Linked DNA regions of Homo sapiens. The protein of the gene in region 3 purifies or fractionates together with the protein of the main gene of each other region. This does not show direct contact. Each region holds a gene or a part of one and is shown on either strand. Other genes may lie near its edges. The genes, in order: CEP131, PIBF1, LRRCC1, MYH7B, SLC25A31 and ATP2A1.

Region 1 (5,052 bases), on a different chromosome or scaffold from region 3:
CATGGGGCTGAGAGGGTGGGGCCTGGGGAGGGGCCTTGGCTGAGGAGGCTTGTAGGGGGTCCTGGGGAAGCTCCAAAAGAAATAGACTCCAGGCAGCTGCCTCTGAGCCTTCAAGGAGAGTGTGGGCTCCTTGGGCTAGGCCTCAGGGGACCCATGAGTGGAAGGGATTGGGGACACATTTTTCCTCCGGCATTTAGAGCCTTTGCCAAGGGAATAGTCTCAGGGGAGAGACCGTGTGGTTATTCTCCAGGGTTGGCACAGGAAGAATTCTTGCCTTTTTTTTTTTGAGATGGAGTCTTGCTCTGTCACCAGGCTGGAGTGCGGTGGCATGATCTCGGCTCACTGCAACCTCTGACTCCCTGGTTCAAGCGATTCTCCAGCCTCAGCCTCCCGAGTAGCTGAGATTATAAGCACGTGCCACCACGCCACCACGCCCGAGTAATTTTTGTATTTTTTTCGTAGAGACAGGGTTTCACCATGTTGGCCGGGATGGTCTCGATCTCCTGACCTCATGATCCACCCGCCTTGGCCTCCCAAAGTGCTGGGATTATAGGCGTGAGCCACTGCACCCAGCTCAATTCTTGCTTTTTAATTTATTTTTAAGTTAGAGGCAGGTTCTCATCTGTCACCCTGACTGGAGTCCACGATCATAGCTCACTGCAGCCTCTACCTCCTGGGCTCAAGAGATCCTCCCCCTTCAGCCTTCGGAGCAGCTGGGACCACAGGTGCACAACACCACTCCTGGCTAATTTTTAAATTTGTTGTAGAGATGAAGTCTCGCTGTGTTGCCCAGGCTGGTCTCAAACTCCTGGGCTCGGGCAATCCTCCTTCCTTGACCTCCCCAAAAGCCCTGGGATTACAGGTTTGAGCCCCCACACCTGGTCCTAAAATTTACCTTAGTATTTATCAGTTATATGTTCATACACAGCCAAAATGTCAAACAGCACCATAGGCTTAAAATGTGCTGCCCCTCCTACCCTCCCCACCCCTGCCCCTCCTACCTCCCCTCCCGCTGCCCCTCCTACCCCCGCGCCGCCCCTCCTACCCCCCCACCCCTCCTACCCCCATCCCGCTGCCCCTCCTACCCCCCACCCACTGCCCCGCTGCCCCTCCTACCCCACTGCTGCCCCTCCTACCCACACTCTTGCCGCCCCTCCTACCCCTGGCGCCTGCCCCTGAGGAGCAGCATCTTTTCAAGCTATTTCTTCTGGTGTTTTTTTGTTTGTTTGTTTTTGTTTTTGAGACGAAGTCTCGCTCTGTCGCCCAAGCCAGAGTGCAGTGGTGTGATCTCGGCTCACCGCAACCTCCGCTTCCCGGGTTCCAGTGATTCTCTTGCCTCAGCCTCCTGGGTAGCTGGGACTACAGGCGTGTGCCACCACACTAGGCTAATTTTTGTATTTTTAGTAGAGACGGGGTTTCGCTATGTTGGCCAGACTGGTCTCGAACCCCTAACCTTGTGATCCACCCGCCTCAGCCTCCCAAAGTGCTAGGATTATAGGTGTGAGCCACTGCGCCCGGCCATTTAGTGTTTTATTGAAAACATTTATGAATACATGCCATGCTGCTCATTCCTGAACAGCTCAAAATCAGTCCTGGTAGGTTATTCACACCACCCAAATTGGCAGATGAGCCGCGCTCCAAGAACCAGCTGTTGAACGTTTGTGAGTGCAGGCTGGTGCCAGGTGCAGGCCAGGCTGGTGCTGGGCGTGGGCTGGTGCCTGGTGCGGTCCGGTGCAGGTGTGGTCCGGTGCAGGTGTGGTCCGGTGCAGGTGCAGGCTGGTGCAGGTGTGGTCCGGTGCAGGTGCAGGCTGGTGCAGGAGCAGGTTTCGTGCATTGCTCTGCTCTCTGCTTATCCTCATTCCCATCATGTTCTGTTGGTTTGATTTTGGGCCTCTGACATGTTGGTCTTTGCCCAGATGTCTTGGTGGTTCTTGTTAAAAGGGAGGCCCTAGGAGTTAGCTGGAAGCCTATTGCCTGGTGGCTTCACTTCGGGGCACTGGTGCAGAGAGCAAGGCATTGTTGAGTATCCCCACCTACCAGTGTCTGTGGGACCCTCCTCACAGGCTGAGTCTCTCCAGAGACAAACCCCCAGCCCGCCCCAGGGTTCGAGTCCTGGCTGCCCGGTTGCACTGCTGGGGAGGGGTGGCGGTGGCTGTCCTGGGTGAATCACCCATCTCTGCCCCACCTGCAGGGCCAGCTGGGGAGGGCAGGGTGGATGCTAGCGGCTCAAGTGAGGGAAGGGGCTTTGCCGAGCAGCCAGATTCTCCCCTTTGCCTCAAAGCCTGTCCATGCCTGTGGGAGAACAGTGTGTCTCCGTGGGGGCACGGGACCTGCCAGCTCCTCGCCCTCCCTCCCCACAATGCCTGGACCCTCCCTTGTGTCCCAGTTGCTCTCTGCTGGCCCTTCTGTTTCTAATCCTCCAGGTCTGCAGATGCCCCTTTCCTGCAGTCTCCCCATCCCTCCTGTCAGCCTCGGTATTGGTCCTGTCCTCCCGCCTTCCTGCGGGTCTGCGGAGGGGCAGAGGCAGAGAATGTGGCTTCCATCCGTCGTGTGGGATGGGGCTTCGCTTCTGTGAGTCTGCTCTGGAAGCTGATTGTGAGCTGCTGGCCTGAGCTGCTCCCCCCGTCTTGGGCACGTCCAGCGTTCATGCCTCGATTCTATCCCCTGCCCCGTGGGAGCCCCTGGTCCAGCTTTCCTGTCCTGGGAAGAACCCCATCATCAGGGCGCAGGCTGTGGAAGGGGCCTGGGGACACTGGACGACAATGCTGCCAGCACGTAGCAAGCACTGAAGGCCTTTGTTCCCTCCCAGCCCGTGCTGCGAGTGTAGCTCTGAGATCTCAGGCGTCCCCTCCAGAGGCCTGACCATTCCTGTCTCTCTTCCGGCCTGGCAGGAGCAACAAGGGAGCAGTGGGCAACTGCGTCACCACCATGGTGCACAACCGCTACACCCCCTCGGAGAGGGCGCCTCCGCTCAAGAGCTCCAACCAGACTGCCCCCTCCCTCAAGTAAGGTCTTCTGGGGAGGCCGCGGGGCTGCGGGGTCCGACCTCAGTTAGGGCATGTAGTCAGTGCACCTGGGGTCCGACCTCGGTCAGGGCACGCGGTCAGTTCACACAGGGTTCTACCTTGGTCAGGGCATGCGGTCAGTGTGCATGGGGTCCAACCTCGGTCAGGGCACGTGGTCAGTGCACGTAAAACCGCGTGGAGCAGCTGTGAACCGGGCTCCCCATCCACGTCCGCCGCCCTCTTCTGTTCTTGGGTCGGCAGCTTCCCACAGAGAGAAAACAGCCCAGATGTGGCACAGTGAGGTCTGGGGCTCACCCTGAGGTGGGGCCCCCAGGAGGAAGCCAAGGCTTGTGCAGAGCCCAGAAGGCGTCACAGCGGGGGTGGACCGAGCGGGGCAAAGGAGCCCCCGAGTCCACCACCACATGGTCTTGCGGGGATTGGGGATGGCCTTGGGGTTGCTCAGGGGTCCCTCAGGCTCTGGACTCCTGTGACTTTTGGGAACTTTCTCAATGGAATTTTTTTTTTTTTTGAAATGGAGTTTCATTCTTGTTGCCCAGGCTGGAGTGCAGTGGCATGATCTCGGCTTACTGCAACCTCTGCCTCCCAGGTTCAAGCGATTCTCCTGCCTCAGCCTCCCGTGTAGCTGGGAGTACAGGTGCCCGCCACCATGCCGAGCGAATTTTTTTGTGTTTTTAGTAGAAATGGGGTTTCACCATGTTGGCAAGGCTGGTCTCGAACTCGTGACCTCAGGTGATCCGCCCGCTTTGGCCTCCCAAAGTGCTGGGATTACAGGTGTGAGCCAGGGCACCCAGCCTCTCAATGTAACTTTAGTGAGAAGTTTTTAAATGCAAAGAGCTCATTATCCTGGGTACCAGTGAGTGGGACCTTGTCAGGGCACAGGTGGTCCAGAGGCCAGGATGTGGCACGGGAGAGCCGGCCTCGCACCTGCCGCTGTCCCCCTCTGCCCCGGCTGCCAGCCTGCCAGCACCACTTCCAGGCTCAGTCCTGGGACTTCCGGGAGTGGGCACCTGCTGCCTGTGGGCAGAGCTGTTCCCCTGGGCGGTGAGACGAGGGTGTTTTCTTCTTACCTGTCAGCAACATCATCAAGGCAGCCACCTGTGAGGGCAGTGAGAGCAGCGGCTTTGGGAAGCTGCCGAAGAATGTCTCCAGTGCCACCCACTCAGCCCGGAACAATACTGGGGGCAGCACGGGCTTGCCCAGGCGGAAGGAGGTGACGGAGGAGGAGGCTGAGAGGTGACCGATCTTGGGGCGGTGGGGGGGGGCCTGAGCCTAGAACACAGAGGTGGGCAGGCATCAGGGTCTGGGGGGCTCACACCTCCGAGGATAGAAATTTCCATTTAATAATTGTTTTAATTTAATTTTTTTTTTTTTTGAGACAGAGTCTCGCTCTGTCGCCCAGGCTGGAGTGCAGTGGCGCGATCTCTGCTCGCTGCAAGCTCTGCCTCCCGGGTTCACACCATTCTCCTGCCTCAGCCTCCCGAGTAGCTGGGACTACAGGTGCCCGCCACCACGCCTGGCTAATTTTTTGTATTTTTAGTAGAGACGGGGTTTCACCGTGTTAGCCAGGATGTTCTCGATCTCCTGACCTCGTGATCCGCCCGCCTCCGCCTCCCAAAGTGCTGGGATTACAGGCGTGAGCCACCACCCCCGGCCTGTTTTAAAATATTGAGACCGAGCAGACCCCATGTGGTGTGGTTCTATTTACATAAAACACCAAGCAAAGGCAAGTTTATCACAGGAGGTCGAAGGCTGGTGTAGGGGTGGCAGAGAGGGCTCCTCCAGGGGCAGTGGAACATTCCAGAACTGCACTGTGCTGATGGTCACACAACTCTAGATTTGCTAAAAATCATTGACTTGTACACTGAAAATGGGTAGATTTTATAGTATGGAAATTGTACCTCAGTAAAACTGTTAATTAAAACAACATTAAAGGCAAAGAAGATACAGAACTGAAAAAAGCCAACAACACCCAAAGCTCCAGGGGCTGTGGGCGGAGCCTCCTGTGATGATGACTGTTGGGGGCTGT
Region 2 (5,052 bases), on a different chromosome or scaffold from region 3:
ATTGAGCATCGTATGCTAACGTTATGAAAAATAAATTTTCCTCACTAGACTATAGCTCCATGATAATGGTTGGAAGTCACAGGAAAGGTAGATTTCTGCTCAGTGTAAGCCTGTTATTGCTATTAACATTGAAATGGCCTGATCTTAAGTTTCTGAGCTTCCTGTCATTGGAAGCATTTAAGTAGTCCTGAATAGTCAACTGTTAATAAATATTATAGGTATTTCTATTTTGGAAAGAGATTGAACCAACTGCCCAGGGTTTCAAGGATTAAGTTCAGCAGTTAATACCAGAGACTTGAAAAATGGTGGTTTCTGGTAACAGAGACCTGGAAACCATGGCTTAAGCAAGAGAAGGATTTTGTTTCTTTGGTATAACAAAAATCCAAAAATAGGTATTTTAGTAGACCTCAAGTGATTACTCCTTGATCGCATTAGGAACCCAGGCTCCTTTTAACCTTAGCTATTTTCAACATATGCTTTTCACCTGAAATCATAAGATAGCTTATCTGCCTCCAGTATTGTGTACATGTAAAAGGTGGTAATAAGGAGAAGGATAGTGGAAAAGGGGGCATGTGCCAAATGAGTCAGTCCTCTTTAAAGAGTTCTTCCAGAAGTTCAAGCCAGTGGCCTCAATTGACTAACATTGTATAGCATGACCACCCCTACCTACAAGGGATGGGAAGCTAACTGGACATGTTGTTACTAATAAAAACCAGAGTATGTCAGAAAGAAGGGAAGGTTTGATGTTGGGAGGCAAGTAAGTTTTTTCTTCTACCCATCAAAATCTTTTTTTAGTTAGAAAATATTTGAATCTAACATGTCCCACTCCATTGTGGCACCAATACAAATGGTTATGGATACATGGCTTTATTATAGTTTGTTACTAGGAATAGTCTTGGCCGTATTGATTTGAATTCTCCATGTCTAAAAACAGGAACAAGCAGGTCCAAGAACACTTTAAAAGCACTTCCCACTCAGCTGCTTGTTAACTGAAAGAATGTAGAAAAGCTACTCAGAAGAGTAGCTATTCAGGCCAAACTTCCTGATAGTAGAGCATTGTTAGCTTTACACTTTTATTTCCATCTATTGCTGCCTAGATTCCCTTCCTTACTGTACTTCTTTATTCCTTTCCTCTTCTCTGTTCTTGCCTTTCAAATTTTTAGACAGGGTCTCACTCTCTTGCCCAGGCTGGAGTGCAGTGGCTTGATCACAGCTCTCTGCAGCCTCAAATTACTGGGCTCAAGCAATCCTCTCATCTCAGCCTCTTGAGCAGCTGAGACTACAGGCGTGTACCACCACACCCAGCTAATTTTTTTAATTTTTTTGTAGAAACAGGGTCTCACTATGTTGTCCAGGCTAGTCTCAAACTCCTGGCTTCAAGCAATCCTCCCACCTTGGCCCCCCAAAGTGCTGGGTTTACAGCCTGAGCCACAGAATTGAGCTCTTTAAAATTTTTAAATGCCCCAAACTCTTTTTATTTATCTCTCATTAGAGATCTGTGGGTTCCTTATTACCTGGGAAATGAATACATTTCCCAGCTTGTCCTTGAGTTAAGAGACTCAATTTAGAAGTTAATTGAAATTATAAACATTGAAACCCTGAAAAAAATGTTTTTTTTTTCCTCGTGATACAGGTTGTTTCTTATCTAAAATGCTTGGGACCAGAAATATTTCAGATTTTTGATTTTTTTTTTAATTTGGGAATATTTGTGTTAGACCAGTTGAGCATCCCAGATCTGAAAGTCTGAAATCCAAAAGGGTCAACTGAGCATTTCCTTTGAGTGTCATAGTGACTCTCAAAAAGTTTCAGACTTCAGAGCATTTTGAATTTCAGATTTTAGGGTTTGGGATGCTCAACATGTAACAGTATTCTTGATTTGGGAAACAGTAATTATAAGGAATGTGTTTATTTTACATTTTATATTGATTTATTTATTGAGATGTTGCTGGATATATGCCAATGGATATGACAGAGGTCCCCCTTCTTATGGCCAAGACAGAAAATATTTTATGCTTTGTAGGCCACCTATGCTCTATCAGATTTTTCTTATGGGCTGGATTTAGCCCATCACCATTTTTTAATTCTTGCTTTAGACTATGTAGTCAGAAAAGCTATTGGCAAAGTTTAGCAGTTAAGAGTTACATGTCCTGATTTCTGTATTCAAAATGGCACTAAAATAATAGACTAAGGGCAGACAAGACAGAAACAGAAGAGTTACATTCCTAAGTTTTTGGCTTATTTAACTGGGGCCATTTATAAGAATGGAAGGCTGGGAGAAAACTGATCTGGGAGGTAAAATATATTAATAAGTTCAGTTTTGAAGGTGTAACTTATAGATTCCTAAATGTAATTGTCAGTTAGAGTTTAGGAGGAGTCCATCACACACACACACACACACACACACACACACACACACACACACTTATAGATAGATCACACACACCCTTATAGATAGATCACACACACACATAGATAGATAGATAGATAGATAGATAGATAGATAGATAGATAGATAGATAGATAAATCAGCATATAGGTGGCACCTAAAGCCATGGGATTGTATGGTATTTCCTAGGGAGAACAGAGGGCTATAAAGTAAGTCAAAGGGGTAGTCCAGCTGAGGAGCCTAGAAAGCTTAAGAGTATTTAGTGAGTTAAGAAAACTAGAGAAGAGTATCATGGAAGCTAAAAGAGAATGAAGTGGTTAGCTGTATCAAGTCATGCTGTCAAATAAGATAAATAGGCAGAAAAAAACAATGCACAGGACATTATGGACTTTAACAAGAATAGTTTCACTGGAATAGTATGGGGCAAAAACTATATTGAAGTTTTGCTCTGAAGACCAACAGAGAAATGGTGCTATAGCAAAGAGAATGATGTGATCAAGGGACCATTTGCTTGATGATAGAATGATTCAGTAGAGAAGAGGGACTTGACGATGCAAGAGGAGGGATTTACTTGCATATGTTATGGATTGGCTGTGAAATTCATGTATTTTTGTTTGTTTGTTTGTTTGTTTGTTTGTTTGTTTTAGATGGAGTCTCACTCTGTCGCCCAGGCTGGAGTGCAGTGGCATGATCTCAGCTCACTGCAACCTCCGCCTCCCGGGTTCACGCGATTCTCCTGCCTCAGCCTCCCGAGTAGCTGGGACTACAGGCACATGCCACCACACCCGGCTAATTTTTTGTATTTTTAGTAGAGACAGAGTTTTACTATGTTAGCCAGTATGGTCTCCATCTCCTGACCTTGTGATACACCCGCCTCATCCTCCCAAAGTGCTGGGATTACAGGTGTGAATCACCACGCCCTGCCTGAAATTCATGTATTTTAAGGGGCAAACAGGAATCGTCTTGGTTAAAGCAAAGGGAATAAAGAATTTTCTAAATAGACTAAGAGCAAAATCCAAGTGCTTGAGAAAGCACAGCATACTTGGGGGATGGCAAGCACTTAATATTGGCTGAAATGGAGTTTCCTTTTAAGCTAATGACAAAAGTAGTTGGCTAGATCAAGAAATACCACTGTATTATGCCACAGTGTTTAGAATTTATTCTGAGGACAGTGAGGATCCTCTGAAGAATGTAAAACTAGGAAAATAATTTTTTTTTTTTTGAGACGGAGTCTCGCTCTGTCTCCCAGGCTGGAGTACAGTGGTGCAATCTTGGCTTACTGCAGCCTCCGCCTTCCAGGTTCAAGTGATTCTCCTGCCTCAGCCTCCTGAGTAGCTGTGACTACAGGCGCCCGCCACCATGCCTGGCTAATTTTTGTATTTTTTAGTAAAGATGGAGTTTCACCATGCTGGCCAGGCTTATCTTGAACTCCCGACCTCAAGTTGTCTGCCCGCCTCGGCCTCCCAAAGTGCTGGGATTACAGGCGTGAGCCACCGCACCCAGCTGAAAATAAATTTTTGATAGCATTTTTTAAAGGTAAGATAGAGGAATATAAATTTGGAGGTTGGCAAAACTGGAGGCAGGAGGCCAGGCGCGGTGGCTCATGCCTGTAATCCCAGCATTTTGGGAGGGCAAGGTGGACTGATCACTTGAGGTCAGGAGTTCAAGAACACCCTGACCAACATGGTGAAACCCTGTCTCTACTAAAAATACAAAAATTAACCGGGTGTGGTGGCACTTGGCTGTAATCCCAGCTACTCAGGAGGCTGGGGCAGTAGAATCACTTGAACCTGGCAGGAGGAGGTGGCAGTGAGCCAAGGTTGCGCCACTGCACTCTAGCCTGGGCAACAGCACTTGGCCTTCCAAAGTGCTGGAATTATAGGCGTGAGCCCCTGTGCCTGGTCCCTCTATCCATTTTTAGCCTGTTTCTTTCAAGTGTTTTTAAAATATGTTTATTATGAAACTGAAAGTTTTTCTTTATGACAAATCATATAATTTATCTTTTTCTCTTTACGAAGATTGAAGAATTGGAGGAGAAACTTAATGATGCACTTCACCAGAAGCAGCTACTAACATTGAGATTAGACAACCAATTGGCTTTTCAACAGAAAGATGCCAGGTAAGAAAAGTTTTTTTTAAAAAAAAAACAACATCTATTTAGCAATTAAAAGTAATTTTATTGCCTGTTCATGTTTGTGACTGTAAGCTAAAATAGAGAAATTTTAAGTCAGAGATAGCAATAATTTTTACACCTAGACCACAAAAAAAGTAGGATACTTGATATGGTACATAAAATACAGAAAGTCAAAATTCAACATTCATTCAACAAACATTGGTCAGTGTAAACCATATATGATAAAGGAAGCTCTCTAAACTGACCACCATTAACCTTTCTTCTTTTACGCAACATATTGATTGATTCTCATGACCCATTGGACTTTCCTGGCCTGAAGTACTTTCTATTATTCCTGTGTACTTTCTCTAGCTCAGTTGTGGGCTTATCATGCTTAAATATGCCTATGGCAATTATACTTATGTAACTTAATTAAAAATAATACAAACAATGAAATAAATTCTTTGGAACGATTCAATAAAAGGAACTAAAAAAATTATGAAATTAAATATAAGCAACACAAGTTTAAAGATTGAGGGCAAACATGAAATCC
Region 3 (5,052 bases):
GTTCAATCAAAAACAATGTATGTGGTTTTAGTTTAATTTGAACTAATAACATTAGTTCAAATTCCACTGCATTCATTTACAGTGGGAAATAAGACTAGTACACCTGAGTCTACATGACTAGCCTTTTCTCTCTTTGTAGGCAGATCTAGATGGAAAGTCAAATCCTAGTCAGATGATACTGAGTTTAGGATTAAATGTGAATAAGATGATTGTGTTTAATGCCATAAGGACAAGGGAGACCAATATCTGTACTTTCATAATTGGGATCACCATGACAAGTGGTTCAGAAATGACTACTCTGGGATGGTTACAGTAAACTTTTGCCTCTGTAATTCTCCTTTTGCAAAGCATATTTTGTTGTTTTGTTGTTGATTAATTCTTCCATACCTACCCAATTACATTTTACATGTATATATACCCACACACACAGAGGCATTCAGTTCACTTCAAACACTGTACTTTTTTCCAGGACATACCCTGGAATTTCTTTGGTCCTACCAAGTGATAGAATCTATTAACTTTGATCCATTGTATGTCGATTTTAAACTTTTAACTCTCAAAGAGTAGTTCTATTTACTGTCTTTTCAAGTTCTTGGGTATCATCTTACCACAGTACTTTTTAAATTATTCTGATATATCCAAGAATTCTACCCTACCTGAAAATGTTGAACCCTGAACATTTATGAAATCATTATCTTTTTTAAAATCTTAAGGCACTCATTAATCAACAGAGCACACCCATTATAAAATTTATGAAGCAGTTTGTCCAAGTTACTATAATTTTATTAATATTCTTTTTAAAAAGCTGTTTGCATATACAACTAGAAATGTTAATTTAGAGAAAAGTAATGTGAACACTACTTTTTTGAGTTATTTTCTATGTTTCATTCTTTACAGTTGTAATCGTAAAATGAAACCACCTTACCTTAAAGAATTATATGTAAGCTCATCTTTAGCAAACTGTCCTATGTTACAAGAATCAGAAAAGCCAAAGACTGAAATAATTAAAGTAGACCAAAGTCACTCAGAAGACAACACTTACCAGGTATGATTTAAGAGTTAAAGAAAAAATGAGTATGAATAATTTTAAATACAGAGTCCCAGAAAAATTATGCATGCTTTTATTAGCAAAAAGTGTTTGAATTTTATTGGAGTGATGAAAATGGGTTATTTTTTCCTTCCTGATTTCCAGATTTTATGTAATGTTATTTTTGAACGAATGAAAATTACATTTTTTTATGATCAGATTTAAGTGAAATCATTTGTTACATGCTTCTGGAGGAAGAAACAGTTATGAATTTTTTAATTCTTATTCCTTAAGGTAGTGCTTCCTACTTTTTTTGGGTGTCAGACCCTTTTCAGTATCTAAAAAAATTTACAGGTCTTCTCAAAGAAGCCTATTTTTACACTCAAAAAAATGTATATATTTCAAGGTTTTCATGGACTTTCCTGAAACTCAATTTTGGACCACTGGATCCCAGATTAAGAGGTGTTCAAGGCCGGGCGCGGTGGCTCACGCCTGTAATCCCAGCACTTTGGGAGGCCGAGGCGGGCGGATCACGAGGTCAGGAGATCGAGACCATCCCGGCTAAAATGGTGAAACCCCGTCTCTACTAAAAATACAAAAAATTAGCCGGGCGTAGTGGCGGGCGCCTGTAGTCCCAGCTACTTGGGAGGCTGAGGCAGGAGAATGGCGTGAACCCGGGAGGCGGAGCTTGCAGTGAGCCGAGATCCCGCCACTGCACTCCAGCCTGGGCGACAGAGCGAGACTCCGTCAAAAAAAAAAAAAAAAAAAGAGGTGTTCAAAAATGTTTTAATTCTTTAAAATTTGCTTAACATTTCTCATGTTGAGAAACTTCAGTACTTGTGGTTTCATTATTTTATATTTTTCATTAACTTCCCCTTATATTACTTGTGTATTGTTCTTTCAATAATAGAATTGGTACATTTTAGGCTACTGGTTTCCTCCCCTTATTCTCAACTATAGAGGCTTTAATATTGAAAAATAATAATTATCATTATGACTTTGGACACACTTCATCTTTCTTCTTACTTAACCTATTGTGCCTGTGTTTCCCAAGTTACATATTCATTTTTCTCATGAAAAATCAATCTTTTCTGATTCAACCCCCGCCCCAAGTTTGTTCGAGATTAGATCCTTACCAATCTTTATATTCCCTTGCGTGCCTTGGTAAGGACTCTGTTTCCTTAATACAGAGTCTGGCATGTGGGTGCCATGCTATGAGTATATACTATTTCAAAAAAGGAATCTTATCTACTATGGCATAATAATAGCAGCTAACATTTATTGATTGGTTATTATGTAGCAGGCACTGTTCTGCACTTACCTACATGCTTTGCTACCAGTAACATAATTTTTGGCCCGGCGCAGTGGCTCACACCTGTAATCCCAACACTTTGGGAGGCCGAGGTGGGTGGATCACTTGAGGTCAGGAGTTCGAGACCAGCCTGGCCAACGTGGTGAAACCCCATCTCTACTAAAAATACAAAAAAACAGCCAAGCTTGGTGGCACATGCCTGTAGTCCCATCTACTCGGAAAGCTGAGGCAGAAGAATTGCTGGAATCCAGGAGGTGGAGTTTGCAGTGAGCTGAGATCATGCCACTCCACTCCAGCCTGGGTGGCAGAGTGAGACTCAAAAAAATAAAATAAAAAGTTTCACTGTAGCTCTTTGAAGTAGGTACTATTATTCCCCTGTTATAAATGGGAAAATTGAGGCTGTGAGAAGTTAGGTAACTTTTCTAAGTTCACATAACTTTGTTGTTTTCTTTCAGTCCCTTGTTGAACAGCTAGACCAAGAGAGAGAGAAGAGATGGAGAGCTGAGCAAGCCGAAAATAAACTCATGGATTATATTGATGAGCTGCATAAACATGCAAATGAAAAAGAGGATATTCATAGTCTGGCTCTACTTACCACAGATAGGTAAAAAGAAATTAATAAACCTGAAGATACCTCATAGCATAAACAATACTGACTTTAGAACTGGAATACATTAGTTTCAGTGTGGTTCAATCAACAACAATGTATGTGGTTTTAGTTTGATTTGAACTAATTTTATTAGACAATTTAGCACTTTATTAGCTTGTTATATCAACAAGAAATTCAGGTACATGTATTTGAGCCCTCAAGCAGGAAGGTGTCAGATAAATATTATAAGTAAAGAACAGCAAGAGACTAGAGCAGTGATTAACAAACTTTATGTAAAGTGCCAGATTCTGTAAAGGGCAGGCATTGGCAGCCTTTTTCTTTAAGCTTCATGGGTCATATTTGATCTCATCACATACTTATCTTCTGCAATGGGCTTTTGTATCATATAGCCCAGTTTCTTAATTCTGATGTTTTTATTCTATCCTCACCATTACGTCTCCCATTTTATCTGGGTTTTTTGTTTTGTTTTGTTTTGTTGTATTGCATTCTTTAATACAGGTCTGTCATTTCATTCTGTGAAAATACCAGTTTTTTAAATTACAATAACTTTTTTTCTTCTGTTTCCTGTAATTATTTCTAACGTCATGCTTTTCCTCAAATGATTATAACATGTTTAGAGTTTCTTATGGTTTCTTACCCTTGAATGAGCACTAGGTTTTTAGACTTGACATTTGCTAACACACTTTGGGAAGTTGCTCTTGGTTCCATTTCTTGTCTGATTGTGCAGTGGATAATTCCCCTTCTAAAATCTGATTTGGATAAGTTGATGTACACAGTTCACAGCCCAGTTCCCGATTTCTTTTAGGCACTTTTGTGATACTGACGTGGTGTTTTCTACCCCACTGCATGTTTCTCTGATAGGTTGTACCTGTGGAGTATAAGGACAATTCTAATACGCAACATGCATGCTATGAGAACCTCTATAATTATAAAGCTGTGATGCGTTATGTTATCACTAGCCCTTCTACCACTACCCACCAACTTCCTGCCTTATTTGTGTTTTATAAATGTCTGTCTGAATTGACACAAGAAGCTACTGGGTATGGATGAGGGAACAGGATGTCTCAATTAAGAGTGCTCTGACTACCTCAGAAAAACAGCACTCCTGCTTTCAGTAAGTGCATGAGTAACCAACATTATGTAGTGACAGATTTATAGAGATCTTGTGACTGAGTCATGGACAGATAGTAGAAGAGAAAAGATATGTCTTCCTTTTTTCAGAATGGAGCAGTTTCATGAGGCAAAGCCTGAGTGTTGTAGGAGTTGTTTTTAATTTCAATTTAGTTCCATTTGCCTTGTAATTGAAATTATTCCCAAATTTTGGCATTCTCTTATCCTTTGTTTTCAGTTATATGTGTATGAATTTTTACTTTATTCTGTATTCTAGGTATTTAGTGGGATATTAGAGGACGCTGTGTCTAGGGCTGCTAGCCAAAGTCCATTTAAACTGGAAGACTTTGGGCACACTTTATCTTTCTTCTTACTTAACCTATTGTTGTGCCCGTGTTTCCCAAGTTATGTATTCATTTTTCTCATGAAAAATCAATCTTTTCTGATTCTTCTTTTATCTGTGCCACCCCCCCACCCCCCCCACCACCACATGTTTGTTTGAGATTAGATCCTTACCAATCTCCCTGTTCCCTTATGTGCCTTGGTAGGGACTCTGTATCCCTAATGCAGGGTCTGGCATGTGGGTGCCATGCTGTGAGTATATACAATTTCAAAAAATGAATCTTACCTACTATGGTATCTTTATTATCCAAACCTCCTTGATGACCAGATCTGTTCATCTAATTATCTACTAAAAATGCCTTGCCTGTATTCCTCATAAGTTTCTTAAGATCACCATGGCCTCAGGTGGATTCATTCTTCTTCCTTATTTTATATTTCTTGCCCTAATAAATGGTGCCCCATCCAGCATCCAGTCAGTCACCAAAACTATAGAAATCTAGGAATCTTTGTTTTTTGCTTCCTTTCTCTTTCTCCTATCCCACAACCAGTTGATATTACCATCTTTATTGATACTTTTATTCATCAATTGATATTGATATCATCTTAAAAGATGTTGAACTATCTCCTCTGTATCCCAAAACTGTTACCTTT
Region 4 (5,771 bases), on a different chromosome or scaffold from region 3:
TTTCTTTCTTTTTTTTTTTTTTTGACGGAGTCTGGCTCTGTCGCCCAGGCTGGAGTGCAGCCGCACGATCTCGGCTCACTGCAAGCTCCGCCTCCTGGGTTCATGCCATTCTCCTGCCTCAGCCTCCCGAGTAGCTGGGACTACAGGCACCTGCCACCATGCCCGGCTAATTTTTTGTATTTTTAGTAGAGACGGGGTTTCACCGTGTTAGCCAGGATGGTCTCGATCTCGTGATCCCCCACTCTCGGCCTCCCAAAGTGCTGGGATTACAGGCGTGAGCCACCCCGCCCAGCCGACTTCCCTTTCAAGTAAGATTGCTGTGTGGATTAAAAGAGAAAAATCAGTGTGAAATTTATCAGCAGTGTTTGAAGCTCTATACATGAGACCATTTTTTGGCTGTACTCTCTTTATAGGTAGGAGGAGACTTGTCAGAGGTCACACAGAAGCCTAGTGGCAGAGCCAGGACAAGAACCCATTACCTTGACATTAGAGTAATGAAACCCTCCATGAGCCCCCATCGTTCCACAACTCTGAAATTCCAACATCTGTTTGCTGTTGGGCTTTTATTTAGTTGGCAAACACTGATTTGCATTTAATGCCACTCCCTTGACTAGGTACTGGGGATATGGAGGAGGATAAGACATAAAGATAATCACCATGGGCCAGGTGTGGTGGCTCACTCGTGTAATCCCAGCACTTTGTGAGGCCGAGGCAGGCGGATCACCCGAGGTCGGGAGTTCGAGACCAGCCTCACCAACATGGAGAAACCCCATCTCTACTAAAAATACAAAATTAGCCGGGCCTGGTGGCGCATGCCTGTAATCCGAGCTACTTGGGAGGCTGAGGCAGGAGAATAGCTTGAACCCAGGAGGTGGAGGTTGTAGTGAGCCGAGATCGTGCCATTGCACTCCAGCCTGGGCAACAAGAGCAAAGCTCTGTCAAAAAAAAAAAAAAAGAAAAAAAGAAAGAAAGAAAAGAAATCAGATGAAGGTGCTAAGTGGGCCCTTTGTTTTTCTCATTCTACAGCCTCAACCCTCCCTTGGCTTTATTTATGTTTTGCTGATGACATTCAAATCTACATCTTCACAGCAATACTTTCCTACCTTCAAACTAGAATATCCAATTTTTTCCTGCGAGTCTCCATACAACCAGAATAGAATTTGTTGTTGTCTCCCACAAATCTGCTTCTTCTCTGATGAACCCCACCCAGGTACCCAAGCCTTGAGTACTTGTTTCCTACATCTCACTCTCCCCAAATCCTATGGATTTTGCTGCCTAAGTATATAGTACTTTGAATTCCTTTATTTATCTCCATTTCCAGAGTTTGTAGCCTAGCCCCGGCCACTGTCATCTCTTCCCTGGGCGTGAAACAGATTCAGAGTCAGGTGTCTTCAGTGACCAGGATATGTTGGCCTCTGTCCCCCTTCCAGGACTTGGCACGTGCTGTCTTCTCTTTGGAACTCTCGCCACCACTCCTGATCTGGGCTCGCGATTTCGTTCCGGAAGCTGTCCCTGTTCTCCGCCCCGGGCTTCTACATTCTACAGCCCATCACTTTTCCCTGTACCGTAGGAACAGTGTTTGTCTTGATCACTTCTCTACCTAGTAATTAGCCGCGCTTAGTACTGTATTCATTCATCACATGAATGAATGAAGAATGAATGACAGACGGGTCAGATCACCGAAAGCCTCAAAACGCCCACAAGGAAATCGGTCGCACTTTATCGCCAGGACTTAGGCCAGTGCCTGGAAAGGCCCCGAGGCAACGACACGGTCGGCTGCCCAGGCTGGCCCCACTTCACGGGCCCGCTCGCTTCCACCCTGGACAAAGTTTGGCCCTAATCGCTCCCCGTTGTAGCTCTAACTGGCTCCAGTCTCACTGGCCTACATGCCCCGACACCGGCCCGATCTAAAGGCAGAAGATCCGGAAAGTCTGGGATCAGTGCGCGCCAGCCCAACCCCCTCACTAGACACTAGTTGCCCCGCTCCTACGAAGGGTTTCAGCCACAAGGTCTCCCGGCCTCCGGAATTCCAATCTCTTGCCAGACCCCTCCCTCACATCGTTCCTCCCGAGGAAACGTGACCCATGCCGGCCGCCGTGGCCGCCCCAACCTACTAGTTCGCCTTTCCTCCGCGAACGGTTCTCCCGGCCCTCGCGCCGCTACCCAGGCTCAGGGGGCGGGGCCTCGATGCGACCCAGTGCGCTTGCGCTGACCGCCCCGGCTAGGCTTAAAGAGCAGGCGGGGCAGAGACCCATACCTTTGGCGCTGAGTCGAGGCCAGGAAGGGGCGGTCGATGAGAGGGCGGCCTTAGCATTAGGAGTGCGTCGGCTGCACCCTGGCGGATGGACCTTGGGAAGGAGGGGAGGGGACCATCGGGGTCGGCGGGGAGCTACGGGTATGCATAGCTCATAGAGCGTCAGAGCTGACGACGACTAGTGGAAGATGGGGAAACTAATGCTCAGAGCGGGACAGTCACTACCTCAGGGGCACACAATTGATAAGGGTGGGGGTGGCCGTGGTAATGGAGGCCCCAAGGAGGGGCAGGGGCCCATAGTACGTCAGGGGCTGAGCCTGTATTAGAACCCAGGCTTGTTTCCCAGCCCAGCCAAGTCCCAGAAAAATCCCCCTGATTTTATCTATTTTTTTTTAACCTGGGATACCAGCAGGGAAAGCATTAGAGGCAAAAGGAAAGGATTTTCATTTTTCCAGGAATGCTGAAGTCAGGACTGTTTGAGGGGAGCCCTGTGTTTCTCAGACTCTCTTGTACCGTTTACATCAGGATCTGGGGCAGTTTTTAAAAATATGCGGATTCATGATTCCTACCCCCCACCTCATTGCTTGGCAGCCCCCAGGTGCCTTCCCTGTTTCTTCCTTCTGGGTTGTGATAGGCTTGTCTGCAGTCCGAAGCACCTGATACGAATTTTAGTTAAATGGAATGTATCAGTCCAGCTTCTAGGGAATTAACCATAAATAAGACACAGCCACTGCTTTCAGTCTGATAAGATAGGCAATAAACTGCCTTTCTGAAGGAATCAGGGATGGTTTTTGGGGTCTTGAAGGATGGATAGGAAGGTATAGGTAGTGAAGGAGGTAGGGGTAGAGGTGAGAGGCTGGGATGGGGACAGTGTTCCAAATTGCAGGAACAAAAGCAGCAAAGGCTGGCTGGGTGCAGTGGCTCAGACCTGTAATCCCAGCACTTTGAGAGGCCGAGGCAGGTGGATTACTTGAGCTCAGGAGTTGGAGACCAGGCTGGGCAACATGGCGAAACCCCGTCTCTACTAGAAATACAAGAATTAGCCGGGTGTGTTGGCCCGTGCCTGTAATCCCAGCTACTCGGGAGGCTGCGGCGTGAGAATTCTTGAGCCCCGGAGACGGAGGCTGCTGTGAGCTGAGATCACGCTGCAGCACTCCTGCCTGGGTGACAGCGTGAGACCCTGTCCTAAAAACAAAACAAACGAGCAGCGAAGGCATATAATTCTGAGGGTTGCTCGGCTTGTTTTACAGACACTGAGGAGTTTGGTGTGGATAATGAGGAAGGGCCTGAGGGTTGCAACAGGACTTAGGCGCTTAGGCTTGGAGAGGTAGCCTCAGACGCCAGTTCCACTGAGCAACAGGAGCTAAGGGCTTTAAGCAGGGGAAGGACATGGTTAGTTTTGTGTGTTAGGCACTGGTTACAGCGTGACAAATGGTTTGGAAGTGGGGAGATGGGCCAGAGAAAGCAGAGAGAGTTAAGATGTGAGATCATGAGGCTGTAGCCAGTGCAGCAGCTGTGGAGATGGAGCGAAGCGAACAGATCAAAGAAATTTAGGAGTGAGAACTCCTAGTGATCGTAAATCAGTGGCCCAACCCAGGGACCAAGATCCTTTTGACTCTTTTTTTTTTTTTTTTTTTTTGAGACGGAGTTTTCGTTGTTGTTGCCCAGGCTGGAGTGCAGTGGCACGATCTCAGCTCACTGCAACCTCCACTTCCCAGGTTCAAGCAATTCTCCTGCCTCAGCCTCCCAAGTAGCTGGGATTACAGGCGTCCACCACCACACCCGGCTAATTTTTGTATTTTTGGTAGAGACAGGGTTTCACCATGTTGGCCAGATTGGTCTGAAACTCTTGAGCTCAGGTGATCCACCCGCCCCAGCCTCCCAGAGTGCTAGGATTACAGGCGTTAGCCACTGCGCCCGGCCCCTTTTGACTCTTTAAATAAACCATGTACATTATCTGACTACAGGACAGGCTGAGTCCTCCAGTCTCCCGTGTGTGGTCACGGGATGGGGGGAGATGGTGGCAGATAGGTGTCTGGTTATTCCCAGAACAATGTTTCCTGATGTCCTTTCCTCGTTGGCTTTTGTACCTGAGGGGATAAGCAGCTGTTAACTAGAATAGGCCCCAGGTGGCAGGAAGAGGCTCCTGGGTCAACCAGGAACAAAAGAAGCTATTTCTAGTGCAGCATGAAATTAAAAATCAAAAGCATGACCCAGGGTTCTCTGTGCAGGTTCCCCTCTTCCAAGACGGGTGCCAAGTGATGAGTATCAGGTGTCTATGGTGAGATTTGGGGAGGATCCCAGACCTTAACAGCCCTTTGGTTGAAACCTCTCACAATGTGGCAGGTAAGATGTCTTTATTCCCATTTTGTAGATGTGGCAGCTGAGCCTCAGAAGTTACGTGACTTGTTCAAGGTGACCCAGTTTGTGGTAGGACTGGGAGTGAAGGACTCTTGACTAAGAATCTTTCCAGGGAGCGTTTGCCCTTTCTGCACTCTCTGCCTGGGTGCTTTCCTCCAAAATCCTGGCATGACTGGCTCCTTTGGTCATTCAGATGTTTCATCCCTGGAGGCTGCCCCACCCTATAAGTCTATCACGTTATCCTTTTCTTTTTTTTGAGATGGAGTCTCACTCTGTTGCCCAGGCTGGAGTGCAGTGGTGCGATCTTGGCTCACTGCAACCTCTGTCTCCTGGGTTCAAACAATTCTCCTGCCTCAGTCTCCTGAGTAGCTGGGATTACAGGCACGTGCCACCATGCCCGGCTAATTTTTGTATTTTTAGGAGAGACAGGGTTTCACCATGTTGATCAGGCTGGTCTCAAACTCCTGACCTTGTGATCCGTCCGCCTCTGCCTCTCAAAGTGCTGGGATTACAGGCGTGAGCCACCGTGCCCGGCCTTGTATTTTCTTCATAGCAGTTATTCATATCTGAAATTGTTGCTTTTATTTGTTTGCTGTTTCCCTCTGCTAGAATGTGAGCCCCATGAAAATGGGCCATGTCTGTCTTGTTCACCACTTTACCCCCAGGACCTGACTGGTGCCTGCCACGTGGCAGATGCTCAATAATATTTGCTAACTGATGGAAATAGTTTGGGGAGAGAGAAAGAGAAGGAAACCAACATTTAATGAAAGCTGAGGATGTTTCAAGTACTTCTCACAAATTACCTCATTTAATCCCTTCACAGCCTTTCAAGGTAGAAATCGTATCTCCATTGGGTGAATAAGAAACCATGCTAAGTCAGGTCAAGTCTGTGGTTTGTTACTTTTGAGGCTATAGACTCGTCTGAGATCCATTAGTATAAAATTTTGCATCAGCTACGTGGAGGAATTCACAGACCTTCTCAGGCTCACTTGGGGATCTCAGATCAAGACACATAGGATTGGGGAACTTGCCCAGGGTCTTTTTGGCCCCAGGCCTTTGCTGGATCCTCACTCCCTGGCAAGGATGGAGTCCATGTAGTGGACTGTAGGGAACCTGCTGAAGATTCCGGAGCAGAGGGAGATGATTTGCCCTGAGC
Region 5 (4,022 bases), on a different chromosome or scaffold from region 3:
TAGTAAACTTCTGAACAGAAGAAAGTACGATCTTTTTTCTACTTCCTTATATGGTAGCTGCATTACTGGAATCAGTGTATACTAAAATCATGCCCCAGACAATGTGTTTATAAGTAAATCAGAGTTAAGTTATTTCTAGGCTTAGAGAAACATAAACAGGTTTCACTGCTACACGAAAATCGAAGGGGAGATCTAAAAGTCATTCAGGTTGCGGGATAAATCTTCATCATGTATGACTGGCCTGCATATAGCAGCAGGACGTTTAACATTCCTGGCCCTTGCCTTTCATACCATTGTAAAGTAGGATTATACCCCTCTATCTTTGTGCTAAATAAAAAAAAATTGCCCCACAAGTTTCCGAAATTGCCTCTAGATGGCAATAGTATCCTTGTAAATTACTGATCTCTTAGCATAGGATACACCATGGTACCTTCATAAAGCTTTATATATAATAGAAAACATCTTCAAGTTCTACTTATGATCCTCTCATCTTGGAACTTAAAGCAAGGACCAGGATACATCTGAGAATGATATCAACTTACAAGGGCCATATTGAATACGTTTAGGTTTAAATATTGTGAAAAACATTTAAAATATGAAATAAATTAGCACTAGTCAGCCCTATCTGACCAGAATACTTCATTTTACCTGACAAAATATTTGAAGCAGAAAAGCTAATAATAGAGAGGCCCCTACTTCTCTTCAGAAGTCTTAGAATATAAACGAAGAAGAGACAGGTTCCTTGCTTTTCCTGAAAAAATCTTGGGGGAAATGAGAAGCTTGCTTTAATTAAATGAATGAGTGGAGAGAGGCAAACTATGAAAGACCTGAGCTTAGCTCCCAGATGATGCATTAAGTTTCTACCCCTGACCCCATATACTCCACGCCACAGGTCTGGAAGAGTTGTAACCACATCCCTAGCATTCCTAGGGTACAAGGTGCTTTTTTAAATGGGACAGTATCTGGCCCTAGAACAGGACTAAAAGAAAGGTCTGCACTGGAGTTGAAGCCACTTCATTTCTTGAGAATACACAATAAATGTCTATTTCTTTTTAAAAGATCATACAGATTTTTCTATTGAATCCAACTATATGGGTGGATTATATAAAATATCTGATAGACTTATCCCTTTAGCTAACTTGGGAGCCATTTTGCAGCAATGGTTCACAAAGCACTTTCGTTATTTCTTTAAATCATTCCAATATTAATAGAAAAAATCAATGATGAACAAAAATGAAATTTTAAATAAGGACAGTGCTTGATGCAAAAAGAAAAACTGGTAATACTGATCCCATCTTTATTTTAAACTTGTATATATTGTGTTTGTTATGAATTCTTTTGCATGACTTGATTTTTAAAAGATTGCATTAAAATAGTTTAAAGTTTTTTTTTTTTCCTGTTTTTAGGAGTGGAGGTTTAATAGAAAAAATAAAGAGAAAGGAGAACAGCTCTCTCTCTAGTTGAAAGAGAGGGGCTTCGGAAACGGAAGGACCCTAAAGTTTTGTTTGTTTTTTTGAGACAGGGTCTCACTCCTTCATCCAGGCTGGAGTGCGGTGGCGCGATCTGGGCTCCCTGAAATCCCCGCATCAGGGTCCCGCAAGTAGCTGGGACTGCAGGCGTGCGCCACCACGCCCGGCTAATTTTTGTATATTTAGCATAGACTGGGTTTCGCCATGTTAGTCAGGCTTGTCTAGAACTCCTGAGCTCGAGCTCAAGTGATCCGCCCGCCTCGGCCTTCCAAAGTGCTAGGATTATAGGCGTGAGCCACCGCGCCTGGCCTTAAAATACTTTTTATCTTGATGACTGAGGGTTGGGTTTTTTTTTTTTAGGGCCCCCTTGAATTTTGGGCAGAACGAAGTACCCCCTTGGTCTTCAGTAGAATAAGCAGAACCTCTTTTCACTAATAGGTTTCAGAGTACTGGTAAGCCCTAGTGCTCCCATATTTGTACTTCTCTTAGACATACTATTTCAACAAATATACATATAGATTTTGACTCAAGGTCTCCTCTGTCGCCCATGCTGGAGCATAGTGGGGTGATTATACCAACAAATATTTAAGCAACTTAGAGCACTAGTTATAGCAGAGTGCCTAATGGCATCTCCCTCAATCCTGGGAGGTCAACCACTCTCCTTCTGGACCTGGCACAGGTGCACCAAGGTGTAAATCGCACTGCAGATTTAGAGAAAGAGAAGGCAGTGGTCTCCCCGGTACCAGGACTTGGTCAGGACCAACGCGGCCCTGGAAAAGCAGAGCCTGTTAGGTTCAGAAACTAAATTCTGGAAGGGTAAGAAGCAAATTCATCACCGACAGCTGTAGCTGTGGTTGTGGGGCCCACAATCATGCCCCTCCCAGCCACCCTCTTCTCTGGGAAGCTGACGAGGGCGCCGGGAGAGGCTGTCGGGGCGGCCTGCCTTGACGCACCCTGCTCGCGAGGAATCCGCACCAGGCAGTCCACCATGCCTTTGTACCGCGCCTCGGGGCTGATCTGCTTCGACGACGCCTGCACCTGCAGCAGCAGCTTCACCCGCTCGATGGGCGCCACCGCTGTCTTGGACACAGCTGCCGCGACTCCGCCGGCCAGAAGGTCCTTCCCGAAGGATGAGGCGTCAAACAGCCGCTTTTCTGCCTTCTTTTTCGCAGGCTCACGATGCATGATGGAGAAGGATATAAAAACCGGCAGCAGTGGCTAAAAATGAGTACGGGAGCTACGATGAAGGGAAGCGGAAAACCGGAAAACCGCTGCAGCATCGTACTGGCGAGAAAGTGGCTCTTGGGACGCTGAGAGAGCCGCGCGCCGGCGAGGCGCGTGCGGAAAAGCTGCGCAGGCGCTCCAACGGCCTCCAGCCACGTGACGCCTGACACGTGACACCTGACACGTGACTCCTGACACGTGGCTCCTGGATGCGCGGTGACGCCTGCGCACTTCTACGAGCGGAGCCTGGGCTTTCTGATGAGGGAGGGGTCCGGAGGCGGTGAGCATTGAGCAGGAAAGGCGAGGGGAGGGGCCGAGGAGAGCCAGTTCTGTGTGAAGAAATTTAGTAGCTGAGACTAGGCCAGAGCAGTAAACCAGCGGTGTGAGATTAACAGAATTTAGTTTTAGTTCCTAGTGTTACCCCCTTCACTTTCTTAATCGCTTTAATCCGTTACGTTTTTTTTGACCAGAGATGGTTCCTTTGACCTTTCTTGGCATCTTAAAAAAGACAGTCTTACCTGTTGTGTGATTCAAGTGATGTTCCCCTTAAATTTCACCCTATGTGCCTGTTAATGCTTCAAATTCCCTTGGAAATTGCTTTAATCTGTTCCTTTAATTAAGCAGGGATCCTTTGTCTAGTCACTTTCTGTGTCGTTTTGATGATTGTGCCCCCATAGCATAATACATGTTCCTCTTTTTCATATTGTATTTAAATTGATAATATCCAGAGCAGTGGTTCTCAATCCAGACTGCACATTCAAGGGGATGAGGGGTGTTTTGTTTTGTTTTTCAAATTGATGCTTGGGATTAGGCCCTGCACATTAAATCAGAACGTCTAGAAGTGAGGCCTGGCATCAGTATTTAAATTCTCCAGGTAATTCTAGTGTTTGAAGTAATTCTAATTCTAGGGTTGAGGGCCAATGACCTATCTAGAAGAGTAGTTCACAAACTTTTCGATTGCAGGACCCCTCTTTTTCACTCTGAAAAATTATTGAAGGCCAGGTACCAGTAATCCCAAAACTTTGGGCCAAGTCCAGCCTGGGCAACATAGTGAGACCCCTCCTTTACAAAAAAAAAAATAGCTGGGCGTGGCTGCACAAGCCTGTAGTCCTAAGTATAGCTACTTAGGAGGCTAAGACAGGAGAAATGCTTGAGCCCTGGAGTTGTAGGCTGCAGTGAGTTATTATCTCACCACTGTGCTCCAGCCTGGGCAACAGAGCAGGACCCTGTCTCTTAAAAAAAATTATTGAAGACACAATGAAGCTTCCGTTTTTATTATGTATATTGGCATTTACCACTCAGAAATTAAAACACGATTTAAAAATATTT
Region 6 (5,052 bases), on a different chromosome or scaffold from region 3:
CTCAGGGCTCACAGCCAGTGGGAAGAGATGTGGGAGTTCAAGACCAGCCTGAGCAACAGAGCGAGACTCCATCTCGCCGTGGACACGGGGGCAGAAGGGATGGGTGTCACGATGAGGGGTTGCCAGCTTCAGGAGCTCAAGCCAAGGGCCTGATGCAAGCCCTGGGAGCCTCCCTGAGACCTGAAGGATGGATGAGGAGAACGAGTCAGACACAGATTGGGTTTTTCTTTGGAAGGAAGAAAATTCCATTCCCAAGTGACCTCCCTCTTCCCTACTCTCTCCACAGTGGGGGACAAAGTCCCTGCAGACATCCGAATCCTCGCCATCAAATCCACCACGCTGCGGGTTGACCAGTCCATCCTGACAGGTCTGCTGGCCTGGGTGGGAAGATGCATGGGGGTGGGACGTGGGGAGGAAGAGGCAACAAGGGGGAGGTGAGTGGAAAGACAGAGAACCCTCACTGTCTGAGCAACATAAAGAGACCCTGTCTCTACAAAAAAATTTTAAAAACTAGCTGAGCATGTTGTTGAGTGCCTGTAGTCCTGACTACTCAGGATGCTGAGGCAGGAGGATCGCCTGGGTACAGGAGGTCAAGGCAGCAGTGAGCTGTGATCACACCACTGCACTCCATCCTGGGCCACCCTGTCTCTGTCAAAATAAAAACAAAAGGCTGTGCGAGGTGGCTCATGCCTGTAATCCCAGCACTTTGGGAGGCCGAGGTGGGTGGATCACCTGAGGTCAGGAGTTAGAGACCAGCCTGGCCAACATGGTGAAACCCCATCTCTACCAAAAAATACAAAAAACACAAAAATTAGCCAGGCGTGGTGGCAGGCACCTGTAGTCCCAGCTACTCAGGAGGCTGATACAGTAGAACTGCATGAACCCAGGAGGCTGAGGCTGCAGTGAGCCAAGATCATGTCACTGCACTCCAGCATGGGCAACAAGAGCAAGACCCCATCTCAAAAAAAAAAAAAAAAGACAAAACAAAACAAAACCCAGCACTGGGGCCTCCCCCTGGCTCGCTAGTAGTGGCTGTGGCAGTGGCAGCACTGCTTGACATTTTCTTTTTTTTTTGAGATGGAGTCTTGCTCTGTCACCCAGGCTGGAATGCAGTGGCGCGATTTCAGCTCACTGCAACCTCTGCCTCCTGGCTTCAAGCAATTCCCTGCTTCAGCCTCCAGAGTAGCTGGGATTACAGACGTCCACCATCACACCCGGCTAATTTTTGTATTTTTAGTAGAGACAGGGTTTTACCGTCTTGGCCAGGCTGGTCTTGAACTCCTGACCTCGTGATCCACCCACCTCAGCCTCCCAAAGTGCTGGGATTACAGGTGTGAGCCACCCACTGCACCTGACCTGCTTGACGTTTCCATTCTGTCCCAAGCCTGAAACGGGACGGGTAGTGGGAGAAGGCTGGATGTTGTTGCCTACTCTCTAGATAGCCACCAGCCCACCCCTTCCACATGGACATAGGGCCACAGACACCTCGAGAACTGTCCTGTCTCCTTCAGCCTCCTCAAAAATCCTCCAGGGAGGAGCCATGAGATTCTAGGACAAGATAGGGGGTTCAGATACACTGAAAACCATGGCTGCTAGGCTGGGCGTGGTGGCTCATACCTGTAATCCCAGTGCTTTGGGAGGCTGAGGCAGGAGAATTACTTGAGGTCAGGAGTTTCAGACCAGCCTCGGCAACACAGCGAGACCCCATCTCTATAAAAAAAAAATTTTTTTAACTAGCTGGGTGTGGTGGTGTGCACCTGTAGTCCCAGCTACTTGGGAGGCTGAGGTGGGAGGATTGCCTAAGCCCAGAAGCTTGAGGCCACAGTGAGCTATGATTACCACGGCAGTCCAGCATGGACAACAGAGCAAGACCCCATCTCTATAAAATTTTTTTAAAAATTAGCTGGGCATTGTACTGCACACCTGTAGTCCCAGTTGTTTGGGAGGCTGAGGTGGGAGGATCACTTGAACCCAAGAGTTTGAGGCTGCAATGAGCTATGATCACACCACTGCGTTCCAGCCTGGGCAACAGAGCAAGACCCTGTCTCTGTAAAACCACCATAGCTGCTTCTGTTTCCGCACTGGCAGGGAGAAGCGAAGAAGAGGCAGAAAACATTCCCCATGGTCCCAGGGGGCAAGGGCTAGGCTGGCCCAGGCTTGCTGCTGAGCCCCTGCTCTTAGGGTGAGGGAGGCATGGTCGTAAGTGTAGGTCCCCCTTCCTCCCAGAAACATGCTTGACAGTTAAAAGTGTGGCTCCAAATATGTCCACTTATTTGATTTTCACCCAAGACATTGTTTTGCAGTGTACATGTCCTTGTCCCCATTTTACAGAGGAGCACATGGAAGTTAGGTGATCAAACACAGCTTGTTAGTGGTCAAGCTGGGGCTTGGGTCGAGGTCTTTTTAAGAGCCGTGGACTTCTGGCTGGGCACGGTGGCCTGTAATCCCAGCACTTTGGGAGGCTGAGGTGGGCGGATCACTTGAGGTCAGGAGTTCGAGACCAGCCTGGCCAACATGGTGAGACCCCGTCTCTACTAAAAATACAAAAAAAAAAAAAAAATTAGCCAGGTGTGACAGCATGTGCCTGTAATCCCAGCTACTTGGGAGGCTGAGGCAGGAGTATTGCCTGAACCCGGGAGGTTGCAGTGAGCTGAGATCTTGACACTGCACTCTAGCCTGGGTGACAAGACTGCAACTCTGTCTCAAAAAAAAAAAAAAAAAAAGGAGCAATGGACTTCCTAGCTGCCTTCAGTGGCTTCTTCCAGAGTCCAGACATCCCCCAGGATGGCTACTTGGTCCTTACCAGGAGCTGTCCTGCTGAGCAGGGAGAGAGTTAGGCACGGGAAGCCTGGGAGAAGGACATGATGTCATCCGAAAACCCCTTGGCCCCTTCTCCACAGGCGAGTCTGTATCTGTCATCAAACACACGGAGCCCGTTCCTGACCCCCGAGCTGTCAACCAGGACAAGAAGAACATGCTTTTCTCGGTGAGCAATCCGGGACCAGCCATCACACACTCAGTCAAGCCAGGTGCCCGGGTTGGAGAGAAACATGGCGTGTGAGAAGAGATGGCGTGGGGAGATGCGGCATGAGGGTCACCTCTTGCCTGATTCCCTGCCTCCTCTTTCCCTTCCCAGGGCACCAACATTGCAGCCGGCAAGGCCTTGGGCATCGTGGCCACCACTGGTGTGGGCACCGAGATTGGGAAGATCCGAGACCAAATGGCTGCCACAGAACAGGACAAGACCCCCTTGCAGCAGAAGCTGGATGAGTTTGGGGAGCAGCTCTCCAAGGTCATCTCCCTCATCTGTGTGGCTGTCTGGCTTATCAACATTGGCCACTTCAACGACCCCGTCCATGGGGGCTCCTGGTTCCGCGGGGCCATCTACTACTTTAAGATTGCCGTGGCCTTGGCTGTGGCTGCCATCCCCGAAGGTATGAAAGCCTTTCTTTTCTCCTCCCATTTGCTAATCCCATCTGCAAAGACCCCTTTTCTTTTCTTTTCTTTTCTTTTTTTCTTTTTTGTTTTTTGAGATGGAGTCTTGCTCTGTCACCCAGGCTGGAGTGCAGTGGCGTGATCTCGGCTCACTGCAAGCTCCGCCTCGCGGGTTCACGCCATTCTCCTGCCTCAGCCTCCCTAGCAGCTGGGACTACAGGTGCACGCCGCCATGCCTGGCTAATTTTTTTATATTTTTAGTAGATACGGGGTTTCACCGTGTTAGCCAGGATGGTCTCGATCTCCTGACCTCCTGATCTGCCCGCCTTGGCCTCCCAAAGTGCTGGGATTACAGGCGTGAGCCACCGCACCCGGCCTTGCTCAGTGCAACCTCTGCCTCCTGGGTTCAAGTGATTCTTCTGCCTCTGCCTCCCAAGTAGCTGGGATTACAGGTGCACGCCACCATGCCTGGCTAATTTTTGTGTTTTCAGTAGAGATGGGGTTTCACCATGTTGGCCAGGCTGGTCTCGAACTCCTGGGCTCAAGCAATCCACCCGCCTCGGCCTCCCAAAGTGCTGGGGTTACAGGTGTGAGCCACCACGCCTGGCCCAAAGACCCCTTTTCCAAGTAAGGTAACATTTACAGGCTCCAGGGATTAGGATCTGGTATCTTTGCGGACCATTATTGTTTGTTTGTTTAATAGAGACAGAGTCTCACTCTTGTTGCCCAGGCTGGAGTGTGGTAGCACAATCATAACTCACTGTAATCTCGAACTCCTGGATTCAAACAATCCTCTTGTCCCAGCCTCCTGGGTAACTGGTACCACAGGCAATCACCACCACACCCAGCTAATTTTTAAATATTTTCAGAGGAGTCTCACTGTGTTTTCCAGGCTGGTCTCAAACTCCTGGCCTCAAGTGATCCTCCCGCCTCAGCCTCCCAAAGTGCTAGGATTATAGGTGTGCACCAACGTGCCCAGCTGGGGGCTACTATTTAGCCCCTTGCAGGTTCCCTCACACCCTCCCCTTGCAGGTTCCCTCACACCCTCCCTCCCTCCCCACAGGTCTTCCTGCAGTCATCACCACCTGCCTGGCCCTGGGTACCCGTCGGATGGCAAAGAAGAATGCCATTGTAAGAAGCTTGCCCTCCGTAGAGACCCTGGGCTGCACCTCTGTCATCTGTTCCGACAAGACAGGCACCCTCACCACCAACCAGATGTCTGTCTGCAAGGTCAGGAGCAGTGTGGGCAGCGCGCTCAGTCAGAAGGCTGCCTGTGGGGGTTAAATGGGCCCTCCAAAGATAGAGGTCTCCCTTCATCACTGCTGGCTTCTCATCTGGGCCTGCAAAATGCTCAAAGGGCAGTAGAACGCCATCCTGTCTGCCATGAACGGGATCAGAGAGGACCCTTGTGCCCCAGCCAGACAGCTCACTCTGACCACCATCCACGCACCAGGCACTGCCACACATCGTCTCTCATCCCTCACAATAGCCCATTCAGAGGATGGTCTCATTATCTTCATTTTTTTAATTAAAAAAAATTATTATTATTTTGAGACAGAGTCTCACTCTGTCGCCCAGGCTGGAGTGCAGTGGTGTGATCTTGGCTCACTGCAACCT

Evidence for each region.
Region 1: the proteins of LRRCC1 (region 3) and CEP131 purify together in Homo sapiens (affinity purification with mass spectrometry; 2 studies listed by BioGRID and IntAct, with this or other methods). This does not show direct contact.
Region 2: the proteins of LRRCC1 (region 3) and PIBF1 purify together in Homo sapiens (affinity purification with mass spectrometry; 2 studies listed by BioGRID and IntAct, with this or other methods). This does not show direct contact.
Region 4: the proteins of LRRCC1 (region 3) and MYH7B purify together in Homo sapiens (affinity purification with mass spectrometry; 2 studies listed by BioGRID and IntAct, with this or other methods). This does not show direct contact.
Region 5: the proteins of LRRCC1 (region 3) and SLC25A31 purify together in Homo sapiens (affinity purification with mass spectrometry; one large-scale study listed by BioGRID and IntAct). This does not show direct contact.
Region 6: the proteins of LRRCC1 (region 3) and ATP2A1 purify together in Homo sapiens (affinity purification with mass spectrometry; 2 studies listed by BioGRID and IntAct, with this or other methods). This does not show direct contact.

What each region holds. Positions count from the first base shown.
Region 1 is NC_000017.11:81,201,447-81,206,498, reverse strand, and holds part of CEP131 (centrosomal protein of 131 kDa), read left to right. Parts: intron 1-2,891; coding exon 2,892-3,005; intron 3,006-4,100; coding exon 4,101-4,259; intron 4,260-5,052. UniProt on the Homo sapiens protein: Component of centriolar satellites contributing to the building of a complex and dynamic network required to regulate cilia/flagellum formation.
Region 2 is NC_000013.11:72,788,043-72,793,094, forward strand, and holds part of PIBF1 (progesterone-induced-blocking factor 1), read left to right. Parts: intron 1-4,404; coding exon 4,405-4,505; intron 4,506-5,052.
Region 3 is NC_000008.11:85,123,895-85,128,946, forward strand, and holds part of LRRCC1 (leucine-rich repeat and coiled-coil domain-containing protein 1), read left to right. Parts: intron 1-897; coding exon 898-1,045; intron 1,046-2,794; coding exon 2,795-2,943; intron 2,944-5,052. UniProt on the Homo sapiens protein: Required for the organization of the mitotic spindle. Maintains the structural integrity of centrosomes during mitosis.
Region 4 is NC_000020.11:34,953,613-34,959,383, forward strand, and holds the start of MYH7B (myosin-7B), read left to right. Parts: upstream 1-2,255; 5' UTR 2,256-2,395; exon of another isoform or gene 2,396-2,415; intron 2,416-4,485; 5' UTR 4,486-4,600; intron 4,601-5,771.
Region 5 is NC_000004.12:127,729,178-127,733,199, reverse strand, and holds the start of SLC25A31 (ADP/ATP translocase 4), read right to left. Parts: upstream 2,801-4,022; 5' UTR 2,655-2,800; coding exon 2,423-2,654; intron 1-2,422. UniProt on the Homo sapiens protein: ADP:ATP antiporter that mediates import of ADP into the mitochondrial matrix for ATP synthesis, and export of ATP out to fuel the cell.
Region 6 is NC_000016.10:28,884,289-28,889,340, forward strand, and holds part of ATP2A1 (sarcoplasmic/endoplasmic reticulum calcium ATPase 1), read left to right. Parts: intron 1-286; coding exon 287-367; intron 368-2,900; coding exon 2,901-2,986; intron 2,987-3,136; coding exon 3,137-3,434; intron 3,435-4,498; coding exon 4,499-4,665; intron 4,666-5,052. UniProt on the Homo sapiens protein: Key regulator of striated muscle performance by acting as the major Ca(2+) ATPase responsible for the reuptake of cytosolic Ca(2+) into the sarcoplasmic reticulum.